Homo sapiens: one gene and its partner. The protein of the gene in region 1 interacts with the protein of each later gene in a pairwise test. Each region holds a gene or a part of one and is shown on either strand. Other genes may lie near its edges. The genes, in order: VPS4B and ZFYVE19.

Region 1 (12,358 bases):
CTGGGTATCTCAAGACCACAGCCTTCTTATAAAACTTTATCTCAGCCACAGATGCTTAACTTGTTCTTGCAGACAAAACAGAACACAGGAGGGGCAGGATAGCAGAATGGCTGAGATTTCAGATTTGGAAACACACCTCACCTCCAGGCAAATCACATGTCTGTCCCACTCTAGCTACTGTGTTAGCACCTACGTCCAAGACTAACCACCATTAGGTGGCTGGCTACATGTACCTCTCTTGCTGATTTTTGTGAAGACCAAATGAAATAGTAAGATAAAAGACAGAACACAGTGCCAGGCATGTGAATATTTAAAAGATATTAGCTATTATTATTTTTACTTTATGAGGTATAAATGCACCAGATTCTACTCAAAAATATTCTAGATGTGTCAGAAGCAGCCTTACATCTGTACATTTAAGTTTCTATACTTATATCAAAATAATACACAAATACTTCAAAAATCATTTCATAGGAAAATTTAAAACACATTAGGATGATTAATAAGGCCTTTTCTTTTTTTAAGACAGGGTCTCACTGTGTCACCCAGGCTGGAGTACACTGGTGCAATCTCGGCTCACTGCAACCTCCACCTCCTGGGCTCAAGAGATTCTCCCACTTCAGCCTCCCAAGTAGCTGGGACTACAGGAGTGTGCCACCACATCCAGCTAATTTTTGTATTTTTTACAGAGATGGGGTTTTGCCATGTTGCCTGAGGCTGGTCTCTCCTGAGCTCAAGAGATCTGCCCACCTCGGCCTCCTAAAGTGCTGGGATTACAGGTATGGGGCACTGCACCCAGCCAAAAATGGCCAATAAATAAACTTTATTAAAGAACTTGTTTCAGTGACACAGAAATATGTCTATTATGTAAACCCACTTATGGTATTATTATACAACACTGAAATCCTCCCAAATTCTTTGAAGACAAACCAATGACGGTCTTGAAACTTGATTTTAAAAATACAGGAAAAGGGCCAGGCGCAGTGGCTCACGCCTTTGGGAGGCCGAGGTGGGTGGATCACCTGGAGTCAGGAGTTCGAGACCAGCCTGGCCAACATGGTGAAATCCTGTCTCTACTAAAAATACAAAAAATTAGCCAGGCGTGGTGGCACACGCCTGTAATTCCAGCTACTCAGGAGGCTAAGGCATGAGAATTGCTTGAACCCGGGAGGCGGAGGTTGCAGCAAGCCCAGATAGTGCCACTGCACTCCAGCCTGGGCAACAGAGTGAGACTGTCTCAAAAAAAAAAAAAAAAGATAGGAAAGGATAGATAAAAATGACTTACCTTTTTAAAATGAGTAGCTGACTGTACTTTCCTAACAGGCTGCATAAGGGCATCACGTACAATGATACTTATATCTGCCCCTGAATAACCATCTGTTTTCCTCCCAAGTTCCCGAAAGTCTGCTTCCGTGAGACTGTTCTGAGTGGTCCCTAGGTGCAGTTTAAACATTGCTGCTCGGGCATGGGGTTCCGGCAAGGGAATATAAATTCGTTTCTCAAATCTTAAAAGAGAAATTACATCAAGAATATATTTAATTGAAAATTAGGATATTTCCAAGAAGAAACAGATACTAAGTTAAGTGGGCCTGTATGTGCCAAGGTTAAACATATATATTTAGGTTAAAGGGATAATATCCAGAACACATTAAAAACAAACAAATAAAATCAAAATAGCCTGGGAGCCAGTTTGAAGTGGCTGAATCTTTCGTGCATTTTTGGGTTATTTTGGCCACAGTGTTCCTATGTCTGGAATTCATGAAATAAAAAGAGGTCCTACAGGGTTACAGTTTCCCACAAAATTGTACTCTGAACTCTTGATCAAGGGACTAATGATTAACAATATAAAACAGGAGTAGAGATGACACAGTAATTCTCTACATTCAAAACAGAATTACCTCACAATCTTATAGGATATATATTACACAAAATGTCCACTTTAATGAATACATCCAGAACAATCCTATATTATAAAGAATAAACACTATGTTTCATTAACAATAATTTTGCTTGCTTTCTTAGAATTTCGGTATTTGGAGACAGAGAAGCAACGATGAGGGATAATTTAAGTGGTCTGAGCAGACTGTTTTTTCTCCAGGTAACTCTCTGTGACAATGAAAAGAATTTAAAGTTTCCGTTGCCTCTAGAGATGGGTGCAGAATAAGGCAATTTTTCAAAAATACCCTGCACATTTCCTTTCTTGGTACTGGATGGTAAGCTAGAATGCTGGCGCAAATCATCAAGTGAATGGGATAAAAGTGGCAAAAACTGAAGTGCTAATTTTTACCATACAAAATAAATGAATGTAATACAGAACTGTGAAGAGTGAAAAGTGAAGAGTCCGTATACCTTTCCTAGAACTGAAGTTTCATTTTCAACTTAAAAATTAGATAGATAGATGTGTGTGTGTATACATATATACATATACACATATACATATATACACACACACACACATATATATATATATATATATTTTTTTTTGAGATGGAGTCTCACTCTGTTGCCCAAGCTGGAGTGCAGTGGCACAATCTTGGCTCACTGCAACCTCCGCCTCCTGGGCTCAAGCGATTCTCCCACCTCAGCTTCCCGAGTAGCTGGGACTACAGACAGGTGTGCGCCACCATGGCCAGGTAATTTTTTTGGATTTTAGTAGAGACAGGGTTTCACCACGTTGCCCAGGGTGGTTTTGAACTCCTGAGCTCAGGCAATCTGCCTACCTTGGTTTCCCAAAGTGCTGGGATTACAGGCATGAGCCACCACACCCGGCCTGACATATAGTTTTTACTAAAAAAAAAAAAAATCTTGGCTGGGCACGGTGGCTCACATCTGTAATTCCAGCACTCTCGGAGGCTGAGGCGGGTGGATCATGAGGTCAAGAGATCGAGACCATCCTGGCCACATGATGAAATCTCGTCTCTACTAAAAATATACAAATTAGCTGGGCGTGGTGGTGCATACCTGTAGTCCCAGCTACTTGGGAGGCTGAGGCAGGAGAATCACTTGAACCCGGGAGGTGGAGGATGCAGTGAGCCGAGATCGCACCACCGCACTCCAGCCTGGCAACAGAGTGAGACTCCGACTCAAAAAAAAAAAAAAAATCTTACCTGGTTATCTTATTTTGACTTATAGAATTGCCATTTTGCTAAAATTTTATATAAATGGTTTTTACTGAATTGTCAAACTATGTTTATAAATTTTTGAAGCATCAGTGCCCACCAAACTTAATCAGAATGAAAGGTAAGCATTAGGTAATATATTTTCTAATATGAAAGACAGAAGTGTGTGGAAATCTTGTATATTTGATAAACTAGGGAAACAAACAAGCAAATGACCACCCTTCTCCCACTCAAGGCAGGGGAGCAACAGGGTTAGAGCACATTACAAATCTTTTGAAAAGTTGTTAGAATGCTTCCTGACAAGACAAAAAGAGAATTATCATCTACTTGTTACATCTGCAGTGAGAAATAAGATATTTACTATATTATCCTACCTTCGCCTAATGGCAGAATCCAGAACCCAGGGTATATTTGTAGCTCCCAGAACCAAAATTCCATCATTGTCTACACCAACCCCTGCATTAAAATAGGTAATGCTTTAATTAATTTGTCATTTTGGTGTTCTTTAAACTTCTTCCATATATTCTGTTAAGAAATGTGGTGCTTTACCATTAAAGTGCTTCATCTTGAGAGTCTGTCTTTGGAAAAGAACTGTATTTAATCAAATATCACCTTACGGCAATATGATCCAAATACACTATGATGCAATATGATGCAAATATATGAATCAAATCTCCCAGATTGTGGAAAATACTATTAACATTCGTTTCAAAATATTTCTTGAAAAATTTCATTCGAAGTCTACATATTACTTTTACTGAAGTTGTTCCTGGTACATTATAAATGAATACATTAAATCTCTTTTCTATTTATGTCAGTGAGTCCTACAAGATAATTACAATTGAGTAAAAATTATGTATGCATATGGAAGACAATTGGAATGAAACATGGCAAAATGAAACAGTTTGTTAGAATGGAGAAATTCTGCTTGAATTTTTCATTACTGTTATAAAAATTGTTATAAAATAAACAAAAACGACTTTAAAAATCAGTAACATTAAATTAGCCGGGCATGGTGGTGCGCGCCTGTAATCCCAGCTACTCAGGAGGCTGAGGCATGAGAATTGCTTGAACCTGGGAGGTGGAGGTTGTAGTGAGCTGAGATCGCGCCACTGCACTCCAGCCTGGGCGACAGAGTGAGACTCCGTCTCAAAAAGAAAAAAAAAATTAGTAACACTACCTTGCATTTGCACTAGGAACTCCGTCTTAATTCTACGTGCGGCTTCACTTTCATTTTCACTTCTTGAACCACAGAGAGAATCAATTTCATCAATGAAGATAATGGAGGGCTTGTTCTCTCTGGCAAGTTGGAATAAATTCTTAACCAGTCTAAAAATAAATGAAAACTTTTAAGTCTCTAAAAAATAGTAAAAGATTAAAACAAAGTAATATATCAATATTACAAGAACTCTGTAGATTAAAAAGCCTAATCATGTTTCAGGTACAGAAAATAAGAATGCTACAACTGGATAATTCACTTTATGATTCACTAGGTTGTAGATATATGCTATCTTTTCCCACAAAAGAAATTCTAGATTAGAGACTGATTTGACAGAGAAGTGAGTACCTGTATTACATGACTTCTCTGAATATCTATAAGTGATGTAAGAAATCTATTAAGGAGTGATACAGTAATTACAGGCAAAGAAAAAACTTTAAAAAATTGATTTACTACTTACTTTTCACTTTCACCTAGCCACTTAGAAACAAGATCAGAGGAAGATATTGAAAAAAATGTTGAGTTGTTGGCTTCTGTTGCTACAGCTTTGGCTAAGTAGGACTTTCCTGTTCCAGGCGGCCCAAATAATAGGATTCCCCTCCAAGGTGTTCTCTTGCCTAAAATTTAGATTTAGAAAAATGTCATGAGAATTTTAACACTTAATTGTATCATCTATACTGAGGAATACTCTGGAAAGATTTTCACTCTAAACCTCTAAGGATCAAAACAATATTTTAAAAATAAATCAATCTAAGGTATGTCTTAAATATATTTTGTTTCTTCTAGAGACTACTTTATCAAAAAGAGACTTGCATAACATAAGCCTTCTAACAGGAAGTACATTTGTTTGCTCATTCATTCAACCAATATGTATCAAAACCGTAACATGTGCACAGGCAAAAGGATTTCTGCCCTGCGTGGAGTCTAGTAGGGGAAAAGAGTTCAGTTAAAAGGTACTTTCTGATCATCTACTGTGTACACTGCTTGATACCAGAATATTGTACAAAAATTATATCCATAAAAAATGGGCAGCTGGAAGAGATTTTCTTTGAATATTTATGCTCTTTGGAAAAGTGAACCTAACAAAGTTTGGATGACTTGTGAGTTTCTGCTGAATTCTTGATTCCACAGGAAAGCACAGGTTAGTGTTATAGGTAGCAGACTTTCTTTTATTTTATTTTTTTTGAGACAGAGTCTCACTCTTGTTGCCCAGGCTGGAGGGCAGTGGTGCGATCTCGGCTCACTGCAACCTCTGCCTCCTGGTTTCAAGCAATTCTCCCGCCTCAGCCTCCCAGGTAGCTGAGATTATAGGTGCCCGCCATTACGCCTGGCTAGTTTTTGTATTTTAGTAGAGACGGGGTTTTACCATGTTGGTCAGGCTGGTCTCGATCTTCTGACCTCAGGTGATCTGCCCACCTCAGCCTCCAGCTAGGTAGCAGACTTTCATGGTTGGGTAACAAAAAGGTGATACTACTTTAAATCCTAGTTTTGCCAAAATATAACCAGTGAATACATCAACTCTTCGAGCCTCAATTTTGCTAATGAGCAATTATAATCCTGCCTAAAATAAAACAGGTGGGTTACAGCTGGCAGTAAACTATCAAACATACATTTAAAAAACTATGGCTGGGCATGGTGGCTCATGTATGTAATCCCAGCACTTTGAGAGGCTGAGATGGGCGGATCACCTGAGGTCAGGAGCTCGGGACAACTGTGGCCAACATGGTGAAACCCTGACTCTAGTAAAAATACAAAAATTAGCTGGGTGTGGTGGCAGATGCCTGTAATCCCAAATACTCGGGAGGCTGAGGCAGGAGAATTGCTTGAACTCGGGAGGTGGAGGTTGCAGTGAAACGAGACCACGCCATTGCATTCCAGCCTGGGTGACAAGAGTGAAACTCTGTCTCAAAAAAAGAAACAAAACAAAACAAAACAAAAAAAACTGCTAGGTGCAAACTATGGATGTGTACACAGTATCTGCAAAAGAATGATATGCAGATGAATAACACTGTTTCACTTAACTGTTATGAAAGCAACTGTTACTTGAATTTCATTTTCCTATTTTACATGTATACATTTACAAGTCAGTGTCTGAGTATGGTACATATACCACTGGTATAACATGAAGTACTTTTAGGTGGTATATACTTTAAATAATTTTTTAATGTGTATTGGAAAAACACTTTTTTTTCCACTTATAAAGGCACAAAGCAGTCTTTTCAATAACGTTACTAAGTAAAAATATGTGAGATGATTTAAAGTTCAAATACAGGCAAAATAATCTCTGGCGTTAGAAGTCGAGAGAGAGAGATGACCTCTCGGGAGGAATGAGGCAGAAGGCTCCTGCCAGGTCCCTGGCAATGCTGTTATTTCTGGATCTGGTTGATGACACTGGCATGCTTGCTTTGTGACAATTAAGGAAGCCCAACACCCAGGGGCTCCTGTATGTCTCTGTATATTTATGCTATACTCTAGTAAAAATGTTGTTCTAAAAAATAAGCAAAGAAAAATATTAAAAATTAGTAATGGTACACATACATGGAAAAATTCATGAAGATGATACATCAATGACTCATGTTTGAGAAAAAGTGGTATAAGTAATATACCATAAAATGAGTTCAACCATATTTTTGTGCTTTTATAGGATTATGATGTCAACTTTTATGCTGTTAAGTTTCATACTCCTGAAGTTGGGTAGTAAACTGCACCTTGAAGCTAGGCGGACAGTGCGTGGCCTACAGGCTTTTTGCTCTTCATCACTGCTCTATACGATACGACTGTCTGGACTCTTCAGTCTGAGGCCAACATTGCAGATTTGCTGTTGACATAAACCAACATGTTTGCAAAAGGAAAAACCTCTGACTGTCAGACTGTGGGTGTGGCCATATTACAGTCAAGGCTATCAGTCACAAGAAGGATAATATAAAGGAATGGTTTAGCACAGACATATCACTTACTGCTGGAACTAGAACTTGTAAGTTTCCCCAGATGGTAGGTCAGCAATATTCTCTTCACAGTGATAATGAAATGTCCTTTTGCTACTAGAGGTTATGCACTTCCTCTGAAACTGTTAAGTGATTCTTACTCCTCTTTTTAAGAAATACTCTTTAAAAATCATAACCATTGCAAAAATTCAGATGAAAGTCAAAAGTAAAAATCTCCTATAATCTTATCCCCTAGGCATATATTAATATTTCTATGTGAATCTAACTATACTTACTTCTCAGCATACACATTTAGCAAACATGGAATCATACTATTCAGTTTATAACTGCTTTTTGATCTTTGCAATAGATGTGGACATTCTTCAATAAAATACAATGCAGATTTCAATTTATTAATGTAGATGTACACTCTATTTTACTGAGTGCATAGTATTCCACTGCATGTTGGTGAATTACCCTACTGGTTGACATTTAGGTTGTTTTGCAATATATATACACTGCAAATATGGATATGTATAAGAAATAAAACATCTTGTATAAAGATATATCACCACCTTTTAACAGTCACAATTTATTTAAGATAATTCATTAGTGACAAGAATGACAATGCTTCACCTCAGTCATCAATGAACTTTTACAAACTCATGAAATAAAATTATTTAAAAGTTATGTCACCTGTAAAAAGATGAGGAAATTTAATAGGCAGTATCACAGCCTCTTTCAGTGCTTCTTTGGCTCCTTCAAGTCCAGCAACGTCACTCCATTTCACATTTGGTCGTTCTATAACAATGGCACCTGCAAAAAATTACGTTATCTTTAAATTAAGAAAGACTATTTCACCAAAGTTAGAAGACAACATGAAATAATGATGTTAAAGAAACGCATTATAAAATTGGGAAAGTTTTATGTACTAACAACCTTTTTGAAATAGCGTGAGCAGGAAGCAGGTGTTAGGGAGTAGTCAATAGGACTAGGAACCAGGTGGATGACTAGACAACCTGGGGCATGTTACTTTACCCTTCTGTTTCAGCTTCCTCACTTGTGAAATGAAAATAATACCATCTGCCCAAACTACTTAGATAGGTTGGTGCGAAAATCAAATGACATAATGAATATTAGAGTGTTTGGAAAAGCACCAAACGTTCCATAAGGTGGTTATATTTGAATACATTGATTTTGGAGTATCAAAAGTACTTGTTCTACCATTTCTCCTGTTAACCAAAAGAAAAGGTGATCTAATCCTCTCCTCAACCACTGAAAAAAAAAATATGCTTAACAAATTTAACTCAAGATAGGCAGACAGACAGAAGGGAGAAGGAAAAGGAGAGAGGAAAGGAAGGAATGGAAGCAGATGATGGGAAACCGAGAAAAGATACCCCTGCAGATTTGCAATACTTTCCTAAGATTTGCCCAAGTTTCTATTTGGCTGCTAAATAGATCTATTTACAACTTTTGTTAATTAACAAAGTTAACTTACAGGGAAGATTTAGCTTCTGAATGCAGTATATTCAAAAGCCAAAGCAATTATTGCAGTAAGAGTCCAAGAAGGATGTCTTTTAATATAGCCTACTGACAAATTTTCTAGTTCTCTTTTATCAAAAGCTTTTCTAATTTTCTAGAATATGGAAACTGTTCCACTATAAACTATGAAGCAGCCTGTTCTAAGATGACATGTAGTTAGTTGTTTTAAGTGTAACAGAACACCACCACTTATACAATCTATTACTTTATGAAATCACTGCTACTGATTGTTTCTTCTTGTTAGGAAAGATAATCTGTTACTCTAAGACTAGTTACTAGCAACTTACTTCCCTAAATTATGAAAATCTTTAGCTACTAGATTAAAATTACATGAAACCATAAGCATTTTGTATTCCAAAAGTTCAGACTACTATAAAGTAAGAAAAAAGTAAATTCATTTCGTCTTTTTTATGTTTCATTAAGATTAGTAATCCTAGGATTTCATGTCAGTTAAACAAAAATAAACTTTATTTTATATATGTATACCGTCTGACTCAAGATTTCTGCTATAAATTTTAAAAATGTGTCATGATTTGTTTTCATATATAATACTTCTAAGTTAAAAGGTGACTTTGGAATGTTTACTGATAAACAATCTCATACTAGACATGGTTTGCAAAATTAAAAAGGGGGGATGGGATTATGAAAAATGCTAACAAATGGAATGTACTTCCAATGATATAAATTTATCCGGTCTTTGACTATACTATTTACTAGTATATTACTTAATCACAAAAAATTCACTGAATAAAATTAGCTAACAGAAAACTCAAATCACAAACCGATTTTTAATTTTAACAAATATACACTTAATATCATAATCTAAAACAGAAGTAAAAGATTTAAAATACTGTTCAAAAAACAAGGAAAAATTCAAAAAAGATACAATAGTATGAAATCCAGCAGCAAACCATTAAAAAGTAGAAAAAAAAGGATATTCAAATATAAAAGGCTAGGACTCCTTTCATATTCTATTTCATCCTGAAATTTCAAATACATTTCCTCATTTAAATGTTTTAAGTATTTGGTTTTTTTTCTCTTTTATTTGTTTGTTTTACATTTCTGGCCTTTATTGTAAGTGATAGGGAATTTAGAGAAATCCCTATTAAAAACTGGTTGTATCGGCCAAGTGCGGTGGCTCACAATTGTAATCCCAGCTCTTTGGGAGGCTGAAGTGGGCAAATCACTTGAGCTCAGGAGTTCGAGAGCAGCCTGGGCAACATGGCCAAACCCCACCTCTACAAAAACAAACAAACAAACAAACAAACAAACAAAAAAAAAAACTTAGCCGGGCATGGTGGTGTGTGCCTGTGTTCCCAGCTACTCAGGAGGCTGAGGCAGGAGAATCCCTGGAACCCAGGAGTTCGAGGCTGCAGTAAGCCGTGATTGCGCCACTGCACTCCAGCCTGGGCAACACAGCGACACCCTTGTCTCAAAAAAACAAAAAAGAAAAAAAAAATGTATCTTTTCGAAAATTAAAGATATGCAACTGATTTTTACCTGGGGCAGGGTAGGGAGAGGGAAACAAAACCAAATCCAATAGAGCAGACAAAAAAAGTGTCTTGCTTTACAACTGGAATAAGGCCACTTGGCACAGACCCACTGGGTTACCCAATAAATGCCAACTGAGTGCGCAGTGTGTGCCAGTAGTTTCAGGTGGTGGGGACACCACTACGCTTGAGTGTAAACTCAAGATTTTGCCCTTGGACTATATCTACCACTGAAGTTCTTGGCATCTAAAGATGTTCTCTATTCATTACCTGGTCTGTTGTCAACACATTATCCTTACAGTGTTTTCCTAGACATCCCAGTAGGGTAGGCAAGACAAAAATACTACCAAAACGAAGACACTAGTATAGCAAGGCTAAAAGTTTGGCTCAGGTAAGTATTTTCACTATTCAGTAACCAAGGCTGAACCTATAAAATGGAAATCCTTCCCAGTTATGCATTCTATTTGGTAAGATTCAAATGAACAAAATACATACTACCAATGGGTGAGCAAAAAATTCAATCTGAAAAATTGTTAGATAATTTATTTCGAAGAATAATCAAATCTCAGTGATTAACAAAGCCAGCCAACAAATAGATGCCTTTTTAGATAAACAGTGCTACCATTTATTGAGTCCCTAGACTTCGTCAGATATATGAGGTAGTTTTTACACTGTCATTAATCTTAAAAGCCCTGAAAGGAAGCTATTGCTCATTTCTATTTTAGAGATGGGGGACGCTGGTTCTGAGAGATTCAGTCACTTGCCCACAATTAGAAAGTTCTAAGTGGCAGACCCTTGAACAGAATCAAGATCTGAATGGAGCCAAAAACCTATGTCCCCTCTGTTATGCCACTGTGCTATAGTAGAACAGAATGAAAGGGCTTTACAGGTGTGGATGGTAAACACAGAAAGCTTAAACAATTAAATGTAAACAGGAACACTGAAAAGCAGATGAAGAGCAGTTAAGAAACAAAATAAACCATCAATAAGTGAGCTACAGCAACGGCAATAAAAGCCACGTGTAAGTCCTAACTTCTCCCACAGTAGTAAATTTTAATACCATCAAATTTTGCAGTGTGCTAATAGTATAAGTGTTACCTTCTCTAAAAGGCGGCAAATAAACAAAAAGAAAGAGCAAGTTGACTGAGAGCCTTTTAAAGGCAGATGTGAAGCCAACAAAACTATTACATAAAAAAGACCAAACCATGATCCTAGAGGGCAAACCCTAAGAAAACACTCTAAACAAAGCCAGCACATGACTATTGGGAACCAAAGCCAGTTCTTAAACTTCATTTAAATATAGAGGGAGAACAAAAACAATTCAAATAGACAATTCACTTTGAGTCTTTTTAATAGGATAGTAAATTTAAAAATGAAATCTAAAGCAACCTTGAAGTTGATTCTGTAGTTTCTTTTTTTCAGGATCATCAGATTCTCCTTCCCCATCACTGTCATTCCTAATAAAAAGAATTTAATATATTCAAATGATCACTCATTGCTATCAAATAAGGCAAAAATGAAGGAAAAATTAACCTGAAATATTTGTAATTTCAGTGGCAAAATCAGACATTTACATTAAAAGTTATGCTTACTTATTTTAAAGAATGTAGTAAATAAGAAGCAGTCACGTTATCATCAATAGAGAATCATGTAAAAGAAAGGGACAAAAAGACCAGAATGAAGTCAGGAACTAGCTCCAAATTCCCATGACATATTTAGGTATGTATTAATTCATAAATGCATGCCCCACACATCACTCCATGAAGGATTCAAGATGAATCACAGGAGAGCTGCAAACAACAACAGTAAAAACATCAGGACTGGGCAAGATATAAATTAGAACAAGAGGTCATATTAGGAGGAAAAAAATCTGGAACACTAAGGTACAAAGGTCTACAACCCTTAGTCTGGGGATTCCAAAGGACAGAGGAAGCTTCCTGATGACAATGAACTACACCCAAAGAACAAGTAGGTCGATCAAGGCATTTCATTCATATCTAGGGATTTATCTTGAGGAAATAATTTTAGACAAGTTCAAGCATTTGACCATAAGGATAATCACAC
Region 2 (12,397 bases), on another chromosome or scaffold:
CCTGGGATTAGCACAGAGAGGGCAATGAAGGAAGCTAAGAGCTTGTATATCACTGGGCAGGAAGAATTTTACCAGATTAGGTGTGGCTCTGACACAGTCACCTTCAGTTTAGTGTTTCAGAGCAAGAGGTTTAAAATCACAGCTTTAGGTTTAAGTCTCATCTCTGCAGCTTAATAGCTGTGTGACCTTGGTCAAGTTCCTCAAGCTCACCAGGCCTGTTTCCTCATTTATAAAAAAGAATAGTATGTACCTTATAAGATTTTTTTTTTAAACAGAGTCTTGCTATGTTGCCCAGGCAGGTCTTAAATTCCCCAGCTCAAGCTATCCTCCCTCCTGCCTCTGCCTCCTTAAGTGCTTAGGATTACAGGCGTGAGCCACACCTGGCCTCATAAGATTATTGAGGATATTCAATGAGATTGTGCCTCTAAAGCAGGACTTCTCAATCTTAGTTCTCTTGACACTTTGGACCGGGTAATTCTTCATCATGATGTGCTGTCCTGTGACATAGTAGATTTAGTAGCATCCCTGGCTTCTATCCTGTAGGTGCCAGTAATATCCTCTGGGTTGTGACAACCAAAAAGTCTCTAAATGTTGCCACAAGTAGCCTGGGGGCAAAATCATCCTTTGTTGAAAACCACTGCTCTGAAGCCTTCAAACAGCACTGTCCAACAGAATGTTCTATGATGATGGAAACATTCCATATCATGTTCTATATCTGTGCTGTCCAAGATGGTAGCCATGAAGCCCATATGGCTACTGAGCATTGAGATGTGGCTGGTTTTACTAAATAGCTTCTTCCTCCTTATCAACATCATGATTGCAGAGAATATTCACTGAGTACTCACTATGAGTCAGGTATGTTCCCAAGCACTTATTGGATTATCTCGTTTACTCCTCCTGATTTCCCTGTGAGGTAGGTTTTTCCATACATACCTTCATTTTACACATGAGGAAAGTGAGACTTAGGTCAAGTAACTTGTCCAGCATCACACAGCTAATACGTGGTAGAAATGGGAATCACTGTCTGATTCTAAAGCCCGTGCACTTAAACACTAGGCTTACACTGGCTCCCTTTGGAGTAAGCACTCAATGAATGGTAACTCTTATAACGTTGATCACTCTCCGATTTATATTCATCTCCCAGAGGGTGGACAGCAGAGCCTCTCCAGTCTGGGGAAAGAGGTAGGGCAGATTCCTAGGGAGCCAAGTGGAGGGGTTACCTGGGCCTCCTCCTTTCCAGCTTTCATCGATAGCCACCTCAGCTGCCAGCTGCGTTAGCAGATCCTGTGTCTGCTGGGCTTGGGTCCTGGTGTCCGGTGTGTGATGTGCCTGCACAGACGAGGAAACCTCAGTGGAGAGCAGGGGTAGCCCAGAAGCAGTCTAGGTCAGGGATGGATGCTAAGTAGTTCTCAAAGCCCAGGGAAAGGAGAGGGATCCAGGGCCCACATAATCAAGTAGGTCTGGCCGTCCCCAACAGGACTGAGGGGCCACTTTTTCCTGCCCTACCCTATCGTGCTGTTTGTCCCTGGTCCCCGGGTCTGGTAGCAGGCCTGAGGATCAGGAGGTAGGGGTGGGAGGCTTTGCCAACTCCTGCAAAGTACATAAAGTACAAAGGTTGGTGCAAAAGTAACTGAGGTTTTTGCAATTAAAAGTAATGACAAAAACCACAATTACTTTTGTATCACCCCAATACCTGTATCTGGGCTTCTGCTGGGTCCTCCCGCTAGCACCCCCGCTTCTCTCCTAAGCCATAACACTCACCGGCTGGGGGGTTTGAGAAGGTAGAACTCTGCCCTGCAACGCTGCAAGTCGTGCCTCCATTTCCTGGGTGGAAGGGATGGAACCCTGACGTTCATCCTTTAGGGCAGCCAGCCGTGCCTCTATCTCTGCCTGTGAGGGGACTAACTCTGCAATTGGCATGGGGGGAGCCTTGTAAGGGCCAGAGGCATCTCAGTCCCAGAAGCCCTGGACTGTGTCCTCTAGGCAACCCCATCTGCCCCTGCTCACTGGGCTTGTTCTCCTGGCGGAGTCGTGCTAGGCGCTCAGCAATCATCTGGTCTTGTCGTGTCAGTCCCTGGCTCTGGGAAGTGCTGGGCTTTTGCTTGGCTTCCAAGGCTGCCACACGCCTGGCAGGATATGAGATAGAGGCTCTTGAAGAAGGCAGAGGGGAAGAGTGAAGGCACCCACTCACTGTTTCCCATTCAAATCAAATCATTTCTGGGCACTTAGGGAGGCCTCCAATGGGCAATCTGCTGTGCCCCTCACTCATGTCACCCTGCAGCCCAACCTGGCTGACCAGCCAGACGGTCCAGCTGAAAGGACAAGCTCTACCAAGTGCCTGTCCTGGAGAGAGGGCTGAAGAGCTGCTTTACCAGCCCAAGAGGGCAGTCAGGAGCCAGAGAGGAGAGAATTCTCCTGATTCTGTGCTCATTTTATCTAGAAGATGGGGGCAGGGTCTTTCCCTATGGCTCCCTTATCCTTTCCCCAATGCTCTTTGTCTTTTTCTCTTCAGCACTTACTTCTTATAGTTCTGAGGTGGTGACCACTTGGAGGCATTGGCAGAAGACCCTCTACAGAGAAGAAATCTAGTGTTATAAATCCTGCCATCCCACCAGGCAGTGCCCCCCACTCCAAACACTTCCTCGGCTGACTCTCGCGACAGAGTACAAAGCTGTGAGGGCTGGCCAGATGCCCACTGCCATACTTGGCTGAACTTTCACCCATGCCTGCCTCTTACCTGGTCAGGACCTCATGGCATTGCTTGCAGACTTTCTGTTGGGTGTTCCCAGTCCGAGGCACTGCTGCACTGAAGCTTAGGCAGCCTGAACAGAAGGCCCTGCCACAATTCTTACAGCCGTACTACAAGAAACATGAAGCGGGAGATCCCCCTCTCACCCGCCCCTGCAGGCTGCTCCCAGGGACTCTCCAAGCACACACAGAGAGAAGTCACTGAAGTTATGACCAGCTGCTGGGAGGAAGAAGAGGAGTGGGGCCCCTAAGGCCTAGGGATGGTGAGTAAAGCAATTCCTCGGTTTCCAGTACCTTATTCAAGCCAAATGAAGGTTTATACAAAATTCCCATGCTTTCTACCCTGTCTTCAATTCCCTGACCCAGGGATGTAGAAGACAGATAGATAAAGCCCAGTATTTCAGGCCACTGACTCTTCCACAAAGGAGAATCAGAGAGACAGGGCAGAGCCGATGCCTCCTCTGCTCTTGCAGAGATGGAGGGAGGCTTGGCTCAGGATGGGCTAACAATAGCCTCCATTTATTAAGCACTTACTATGTGCCAGGCACTAAACCCAGTACTTAACATTCATCATGTGATTTATTCCTTACAATTTACACACATTATTTTACTTAATCTTGATGCCAACCGTGATTATCCTTATTTTGAGAGGGCCAGAGAGGTTACATAACTTATCCAAACCAAGGTCACCGCCTCAATAAGACAGCAGAGCTCAGATTTGAACGCTGACTCCAAAATCCAGGTTGGTGAATGCTGCACGGTCCTGCCTTCCTGCGTGACACTAATTTACTCCATCTAGTTCCCATCATCTCCTGGTCAGAATCCCTGGCCACAACTGAGGCAGAGGGAACCTGCAGTTTACCAGAGGAATCTGGCAGGTCTGTGATAGGGACAGGACAGTCAGCCTTCACCATGGTGCCCCGGAAGCAGGAGGAAGTGTGGTAATCTAACTCCAGCGACCTGGAGAAGGGCAGGCTGCGGGATGGGGAAGATTTCAGAGCAGAGGGAGTAACGGGCTTGGTGTGATGGACACCGCGCTTCGGAGGAGCAGGGTGGAGAGAAGAAAACCGCCAGATGCTACACTGGGCCGACAGAAAAGAGTAGCTTTGCAAAAACGACGGCAGCGCGCTTTACAGTTTATAGGGAACTCTCACCTAAAGCACTTCAGTGGACCCTCACATAAACCCTGAAAGCGAGAGAATGTTAGCCCCATTTTACAGAAATGGAAACTGAGGATCAATGACTTCATCAAAACCACACAGCTGGAAAGGAGCCGTAAGACCAAGTCTTTGGACGTTAAGTCCCGCGCTTTTCCCTCCTCTCCTCCCTGGCCCTGCAGCCCTCGGGGAGGGAAGACTCGCCTCCTTCTTGAAGAGGGTGAACTTGACAGCGCAGCCGTAGCACCTACTCTCCATGGTGGCTCCCAGCACCGCAGGGTCTGCAGAGCTGAGATCACGCCGGCCAAGTCCTGGGCCCCTTGGACCCTCACCCCAGCTCCGCCCTTCCCTTCCCTGCCCTGCCCCGCCCCACACGCCCACTGGCACTGTCCCGCCGCGACCTAGAGCAGGGAATCCGGACGCTCTCCTGCAGCCAGCGTACGGCAGCGGCGGCAACGGGGGCTGCTGGGAGTCGTAGTTCATTCACGACTGCCGGCCTCCCTCAGAGTCAGTCAAGCCTGACCCAGAACACAATTCCCAGAGGGCTAGGCGCCGCTCGGAGCCTGCAGTCCTCACGCGCGCTTAGACTCTTGGGAGTTGTAGTACGAATCCGTCAGGCCGGAACCATGGCAGTGACCAAGGAGCTCTTACAGATGGACCTGTACGCGCTGCTAGGCATTGAGGAGAAGGCAGCGGACAAAGAGGTGAGAACGGTGGCGAGGAAGGCTGATCTTGAGAGGTCTGGCGGTCCTTCCTGTCCTAGCGCCTCGGCCACTGCTGGCATCCGCTCTCCAGGTTCATTCGGGTCCTGGGCGGGGAGCGAGGGTCGGCGCTATGCCCTCCGCAGGCGGGCTCCCAGACATTTCCTGGACGGTCCGAGGGCCTCAAGAGGAAGCGGGGTACAGAGGGCTCTTCGCGCCGGGTGGCTGTGCTCTCCCCGTGGCCCCTGTCTCCTAGAGGCCGCGGGGCGAGGCAGCAAGGAACGCTAGCCTCCTCTGCGCCTGCGCAGTCTCGGCCTCCGTTTCCGCTTCTGCCTTGACTGTGACAAGAGGTGCCTCATTTCAGTCTCTTCTGCAGGCTGATTTAATTCTTCCACTAAGAGCCTAGAACGAAAGAAAAGTAAGATCTCAAAGCCTCTCCACTCCCTTTTCATGCCCCCTTGCCAATGTGACCGATGACCCTGCTGTCTCTATTTTCTTTTCCACTCAAGCCCATTGACTCTTTTCAAGTAGCTGATGCCCTTCTCAGCATGTGCTAGTTAGTGGGCTAAAAGCAGGAGGATCAGAAGGTTAAGGCAGATGGTATAGAGGTCCATGCTACCTTAGGTGGTGATAAAGATGCCAGGGAGTGAAACACTGATCAAGCTGGATTTAGGATTTCTTTTATCTCCCCCTGGATCATGGTGGTAGTTTTAACAATATACGAAGGAGAGGCGTTCATCAAATGAAAATTAGTGCCCAACTGAGCCGAGATCGCGCCACTGCACTCCATCCTGGGCGACAGAGCAAGACTCTTTCTCAAAAAAAGAAAGAAAGAAAGAAAATTAGTGTCTACTAGGCCGGGCGCGGTGGCTCACGCCTGTAATCTCAGCACTTTGGGAGGCCGAGGCGGGCGGATCATGTGGTCAGAAGTTCGAGACCAGCCTGACCAATATGCTGAAACCCCTTCTCTACTAAAAATACAAAAATTAGCCGGGCGTGGTGGCACACACCTGTAGTCCCAGCTACTTGGGAGGCTGAGGCAGGAGAATCACTGGAACCCGGGAGGCGGAGGTTGCAGTGAGCTGAGATTGCACCACTGCACTCCAGTCTGGGCGACAGAGCGAGACTGTCTCAAAAAAAAAAAAAAAAAAGGAAAAAAAAATAGTGCCCACTAATGTCCCAGTACTTCTGGGCTGCCCTGCTCATGGGGTGAGTGAGCTTTTGAGAAGAGGAAGCTCTGGGGCAGAAAATCAGAGAGACCCAGAGGGCCCTTGAGAAATGCTGTCAACCTGCACAAATCTGTCCCCTGCAGCCGCAGCTGAAATCAGAAATGGCCATGGGATGTCTATGAAGCATCAAAAGCATCTGCTCCACCTCTCTCGTGTTTCAATATTTTAGGATTAATAATTCCTAACATCTGTATAATGCTTACTATGTCCTAGACAGTATTTTTTTTTTCTGGATAGTATTCTAAGTGCTCTATGTTTACAAATTATTATTTTTTAAATTCTTTATTATTATTATTTTTTATTATTGTTTTTGAGACGGAGTCTCGCTCTGTGGCCCAGGCTGGAGTGCAGTGGCGCGATCTCGGCTTACTGCAACCTCCGCCTCTCGGGTTCACGCCATTCTCCTGCCTGAGCCTCTCCAAGTAGCTGGGACTACAGGCGCCTGCCACCATGCCCGGCTAATAATTTTTATTTTTAGTAGAGACGGGGTTTCACCGTGGTCTCGATCTCCTGACCTCGTGATCTGCCCACCTCAGCCTCCCAAAGTGCTGGGATTACAAGCGTGAGCCACCGTGCCCGGCCTATTATTATTTTTTGAGACGGAGTCTCGCTCTGTCGCCCAGGCTGGAGTGCAGTGGCGCAATCTCAGCTTACTGCAACTTCTGCCTCCCAGGTTCAAGCGATTCTCCTGCCTCAGCCTCCGGAGTAGCTGGGACTACAGGCATGTACCACCACGCCCGGCTAATTTTTTTTTTTTTTTTTTTTTTGAGACAGAGTATCACTCTTTGGCCCAGGCTGGAGTGCAGTGGCATGATCTCGGCTCACTGCAACCTCCGCCTTCCTGTTTCAAGTGATTCTCCTGCCTCAGCCTCCCAAGTAGCTGGGATTACAGGCACCCGCCACCACGCCCAGCTAATTTTTGTATTTTTAGTAGAGACGGGGTCTCACCGTGTTGGCCAGGCCAGTCTTGGATTCCTGACCTCGTGATCTTCCCACCTCGGCCTCCCAAAGTGCTGGGATTACAGGTGTGAGCCACTATGCCCTGCCTGCAAATTATTTAATTAGTACTTTATTAATAGTGAGAAACTATTTGAGACATTTCACAAAAGATCCAAGTGGGAAATCTGGAGGGTTTTTTTTTGAGACGGAGTCTCACTCTCTTGCCTAGGCTGGAGTGCAGTGGTGCAACCTTGGCTCACTGCAACCTCTGCCCCCCAGGTTCAGGGAATTCTCCTGCCTCAGCCTCCTGAGCAGCTGGGATTACAGGCATGTGCCACCACACCCAGCTAATTTTTGTGTTTTTATCAGAGACAGGGTTTCACCATGTTGGTCAGGCTGGTCTTGAACTCCTGACCTCAAGTGATCTGCCGGCCTTGGCCTCCCAAAGTGCTGGGATTACAGGCGTGAGCCACCGCGCCCGGCTGAAATCTAGAGTTTCTAACCCTGAAGTTGAGAACTCCTGAGGAAGTCAGTTGGAAGTCATTCTCTATTAATTAGAGAAGTTACATAATCAGATTTTATTTTTTTTTTATTTTTATGTCTATTTTTTGAGAAAAGATCTCACTGTCATTCAGGCTGGAATGCAGTGGCACAATCACAGCTCACTGCAGCCTCGACTTCCTGGGCTCAAGTGATCCCACCTCAGCCTCTCATGTAGTTGGGACTGCAGGTGTGCATCATCATGCCTGGCTAATTTGTTTTGTGTTTGTTTTTGCTTTTTTTTTTTTTCCAGAGACGGGGTCCAGCTATATTGCCCAGGCTGGTGTCGAACTCCTGGGTTCAAGCTATCCTCCTGCCTGGTCTCCCAGAGTGCTGGGATTGCAGGCATGAGCCACTGTGCCCTGCCCATAATTGGATTTTAAAGAAAGTATTTGACTGAGTGTGATGGCTCACACCTGCAATCCCAGCACTTTGGGAGGCCAAGGTGGAAGGAACGCTTGAGGCCAGGAGTTTGAGACCAGCCTGGGAAACGTAGTGAGAGCCTGTCTCTCTCTCTATATATAAAAAAAAAAGCTGGGCAGGGTGTTACGCACCTGTAGTCCCCGCTACATGGGAGGCTGAGGTGGGAGGATCACTTGAGCCTGGGAAGTTTCAGTGAGCTATGATTTTGCCACTGTATTCCAGCCTGGATGACAGGGTGAGACCCTGCCACTCTTAAAAAAGAAAAGAAAATTCAACACTAGTGTGCATAATGAAAATGGGTGGGGGTGGGAGGAATGGAAGAGCTGCCACTAGGGGGTCAGATGGGGCTGGTGTCTAGGCAAGAGACCAAGGTCTGAGCTGGGCAGTGGTGGCTGGGATCCAGTTCTAACTCAGATGAGATAAGGGATAGGTGTGAAGCCACTCTATAAAGGGTAACAGGTGCTGCTCCTGCCTTTAATGGGGGGGCAAGATTCACGCATACAAGGGAGACATGGTGAGTTCCTTAAGAGGGGTACAAAGTGCTGTGGATGTTCAGTGTAGGCTGAGATTGCTATTAGTTTGAGAGAAGGAATAAAGGCAGGAGAGAAGGTATTTGGGGCCTTGAAGAATGGGCAGAGTTTGGACATGTGGAGATGGAGGCAGGGCATTCCAAGAAAGCAAATGTATATATTAATACATACAGTCTATTTTGGAGCATAAGTAGGTGGCACCCTCAAAGAGGCCTTACCTATTTTTCTTTTCATAGCAGCCATTCTCCTTTCTAGCACTTACTCCCATTTACACTTTGGATACACTGGCTAGCTTCATGGCAACACACTTTTTGGTAGAAAGCAAGAAAAACCTAGGCCCTGGTGTCCCCGCACCATGGTTTAATACCTGTCATAGACAACCTAGGTTGCTGCCATAGGGCAACCTAGAGGACAAACAAATATTTAAAGTGTATACAAGGAAGAACTCCTAAACTGGTTGTCCAAATAGCCTAGGAGTTCTCAATTTGCCCTCTACAGAAAGGCTCCAGGAACTGGGTGAAGGAACCTCTGAAAATCATGCGTGATTTTTTTTTTTTTTGTATTTATTCTGGAGGAGAGGAGGACTTTTTTTTTCTTTTTTTTTTTTTTGACCCAGGGTCTCTCTGTGTTACCCACGCTGGAGTCAGTGGCATGATTACTGCTCACTGCAAACTCTGCCTCCTGGGCTCAAGCAATCCTCCCACCTCAGCCTCAAAAGTAGCTGGGACCACAGGTGTGCACCGCCATGCCTGGCTAATTTTTGTATTTTTGTAGAGATCGGGTTCCACCATGTTGGCCAGGTTGGTCTTGAACTCCTGGGTTCAAGCAGTCCTCCCGCCTTGGCCTCTGAAAAGTGTTTGGGTTATAGGCATGAGCTACCACGCCTGGCCAGAGGAGGGAATTTTAATCCAAAAGTCAAAGAAGCCCTAATGGAGGCCAAGCTCCCTGTGTTACTGATGGCGAAACTGCAGCTCGGAGAAGGTGGTTAGTGGCAGAATTGGGACTAGAACCCTGATGCCCTGATGCCCTGATGCCCTGATGTCCAGCTCAGGCCTCTGCTCCTTCTGCTAAGGCTCCCTGGCCCTGTCCAGCGCGGTTCAGTGGTAGTGATGAGCACCACCACCAAATTTAACTTGTGTTCAGACTACTTCTCTGAATCTCAAATCTGTGTATCTATCTGCCTGTTTGATCCCTCCATGTGGATGTTTCACAGCGGTCTAAATCTTACTACATCCAAAAATTGGCCAGGCGCAGTGGCTCATGTCTGTAATCCCAGCACTTCGAGAGGCCCAGGCAGGCAGATCACCTGAGGTCAGGAGTTTTAGACAGCCTGGCCAACAGGGTGAAATCCTATCTCTACTAAAAATATAAAAACTAGCCAGACGCGGTGGCACGTGCCTGTAGTCCCAGCTACTGGGAGGCTGAGGCAGGAGAATCGCTTGAACCTGGGAGGCGGAGGTTGCAGTGAGCTGAGATCAAGCCACTGCACTCCAGCCTGGGTGACGGAGCTAGAATCTGTCTCGAAAAAAAAAAAAAAAAAAATTGAACTCTTTCAATTCTCTCTCCAAACCTGCTCCTTCCTTGGATTTCCCCATCTTGTGGCACCACCATCCATCCATTCAAGCTAGGAACCTGGAGTCATTCTCAGTACCTCCCTATCCTCTCACCCCTGCCATCTAGAACATCACCGGGTCCTGATGAGTCAGCCTCCCAAATAATCCCCAAACCTGTTCACCCTCTCTGTCTCCACCACTACTGCTCCAGCCCAGGCCCCCATCCACTCAGCTGAATGTTTAGAGGAGCCTGCCAACTTTTTTCTGCTTTCAGCCTATTCCATTCTGATCTATTGAGCCTCTCCAATTCTCCTCACAGAAAATGGAATGATCTTGCTACTCCCTGAAAACCCTATTTAGCACTTCTAATAAAATACTCAATAGAATTTCTTTTCTTTTCTTTTTTTTTTTTTTTTTTTTGAGACGGAGTCTCGCTCTGTCACCCAGGCTGGAGTGCAGTGGCTGCAAGCTCCGCCTCCCAGGTTCACGCCATTCTCCCGTCTCAGCCTCCTGAGTAGCTGGGACTACAGGCGCCCGCCACCACGCCCGGCTAATTTTTTGTATTTTTAGTAGAGACGGGGTTTCACCATTCACAGGATGGTCTTGATCTCCTGACCTCGTGATCCGCCCACCTCGGCCTCCCAAAGTGCTGGGATTGCAGGCGTGAGCCACCGCACCCAGCCAATACTCAACAATTTCTTAGCTCATTCATACATTTTCCTCTGCCAGGAATGCTCTTCCTCCCCTTCTGCTAATCTGGGTTGCTTTTACTTGTCCTTCAGAACTCAGTCGAAATGGCATCCTCAGAGAAGCCTTGCCTTATATTCTATTTCATGGCAGCTGGTTTTTCTTTTTTCTAGCACTTATTTCAGTTTGCAATTATGTATTTATCTGTGTGATTATTTGTCTCATGCCTTAATCCCCTCTGCACTCCTACTTCTGAGGACCAGATCTGATTCATGCTCTTCTGTAGCAGCCCCTTACCTGGTGACTGGCACATAGTAGGTTCTCAATAAGTATTTGTTGAATGAATGAAGTAGTAGCTAAAGAGACCACTGCAACGACTTTACTTGAGAATCAGGAGACCAAGGGCAGTCACTGCGTCTCTCAGGACCTGACTTTCCCCAAATGTAAAATGAAGGAGTAGGGCAAACTACAGTTTGAGGGGCCAAATGGCCCATGACCTTTTTTTTTTTTTTTTTGAGACGGAGTCTCGCTGTCGCCCAGGCTGGAGCATGGTGGCGCAATCTCGGCTCACTATAACCTCTGCCTCCCAGGTTCAAGCAATTCTCTGCTTCAGTCTCCGGAGTAGCCGAGATTACAGGCTCCTGCCACCACGCCTGGCTAATTTTTATATTTTTAGTGGAGATGTGGTTTCACTCTCTTGGCCTGGCTGGTCTTGAACTCCTGACCAAAGTGCTGGGATTACAGGCGTGAGCCACCGTGCCCAGCTGACCTTTTTTTTTTTTAATGGCTTATGTGCTAAGAATGGGTTTTACATGTTTAAATGATTGTAGAAAAAAAAACACAGCTCAACAACCAAAAAAACAACTCGGTTAAAAAATGGGCAAGCCAGGAGTTTGAAGTTACAGTGAGCTCTGATCACGCCACCATGCTCCAGCCTGGGTGACAGAGTGAAACTCTGTCTGTAAAAAAATTAAAAAAAAAAAAAGAAAAAGACAATCTCAATAGACATTTCCCCAAAGATGATGTACAAATGGTCAATAAACACATGAAAAGATGCTCAACTTCACTAGTCATTAGGTAAATGCAGATCAAAACCATGTTGAGGCCAGGTGCGGTGGCACACGCCTGTAATCCCAGCACTTTGGGAGGCCGAGGCAGGTGGATCACCTGAGGTCAGTAGTTCAAGACCAGCCTGCCCAACATGGTGAAACCCCGTCTCTACTAAAAATACAAAAATTAGCTGGGCGTAGTGGCAGTTGCCTGTAGTCTCATGTACTCGAGGAGGCAGGAGAATTGCTGGAACCCAGGAGGCGGAGGTTGCAGTGAGCCGAAATCGTGCCACTGCACTCCAGGCTGGGTGATGGAGCAAGACTCCATCTCAAAAAACAAACAAACAAAAACATGTTGTGATACCACTTCACACCCATTAAGATAGCTATTATGAAGACAAAAACAACAACAACAACAAAAAAAAAACCCTGGTGTGATGGCTCATGGAGAGGCTAATGTGGGAGGATTGCTTGAGCCCAGGAGTTCCAGGCTACAGTGCGCTATGATTGTGCCACTGCACTCCAGCCTGGATGACAAAGCGAGACCTTGTCTCTAAAAATAAAAAGTAAAAAGAGAGAGAGAGAAATAAATGTTGGTCAGGATGCAGAGAAATTGGAGCCCTGTGCATTGTTGGTGGTGCAGATAATGTTAAGATGGTATGGTGAGTCCTCAAAAAATTAAACATGGAATTACCATATGACCCAACAATTACCATATGATTCATATGGTAATTAAATATAGAAGTAATATGATCCAGCAACAGAAACAAACACAAAACAACAAAGGAGAATATACAACAAAGACTATATGTAGCTCCCTAAAATTTTTACTCTCAACCGG

What was found.
Region 2: the proteins of VPS4B (region 1) and ZFYVE19 interact in binary tests that used the Homo sapiens proteins (3 or more experiments, as listed by UniProt).

Annotation. Positions count from the first base shown.
Region 1 is NC_000018.10:63,395,749-63,408,106, forward strand, and holds part of VPS4B (vacuolar protein sorting-associated protein 4B), read right to left. Parts: intron 11,752-12,358; coding exon 11,684-11,751; intron 9,288-11,683; exon of another isoform or gene 8,079-9,287; coding exon 7,959-8,078; exon of another isoform or gene 6,983-7,958; intron 5,292-6,982; exon of another isoform or gene 5,099-5,291; intron 4,956-5,098; coding exon 4,799-4,955; intron 4,449-4,798; coding exon 4,300-4,448; intron 3,576-4,299; coding exon 3,494-3,575; intron 1,506-3,493; coding exon 1,286-1,505; intron 1-1,285.
Region 2 is NC_000015.10:40,799,581-40,811,977, reverse strand, and holds the start of ZFYVE19 (abscission/NoCut checkpoint regulator), read right to left. Parts: upstream 4,890-12,397; 5' UTR 4,690-4,889; coding exon of another isoform or gene 4,532-4,689; 5' UTR 4,389-4,531; coding exon 4,110-4,388; intron 3,724-4,109; coding exon of another isoform or gene 3,600-3,723; intron 2,860-3,599; coding exon 2,738-2,859; intron 2,571-2,737; coding exon 2,520-2,570; intron 2,127-2,519; coding exon 2,008-2,126; intron 1,908-2,007; coding exon 1,762-1,907; intron 1,591-1,761; coding exon of another isoform or gene 1,508-1,590; exon of another isoform or gene 1,507-1,507; intron 1,330-1,506; coding exon 1,221-1,329; intron 1-1,220. Other genes in the region: DNAJC17 (dnaJ homolog subfamily C member 17), read left to right, coding at 4,532-4,609. UniProt on the Homo sapiens protein: Key regulator of abscission step in cytokinesis: part of the cytokinesis checkpoint, a process required to delay abscission to prevent both premature resolution of intercellular chromosome bridges and accumulation of DNA damage.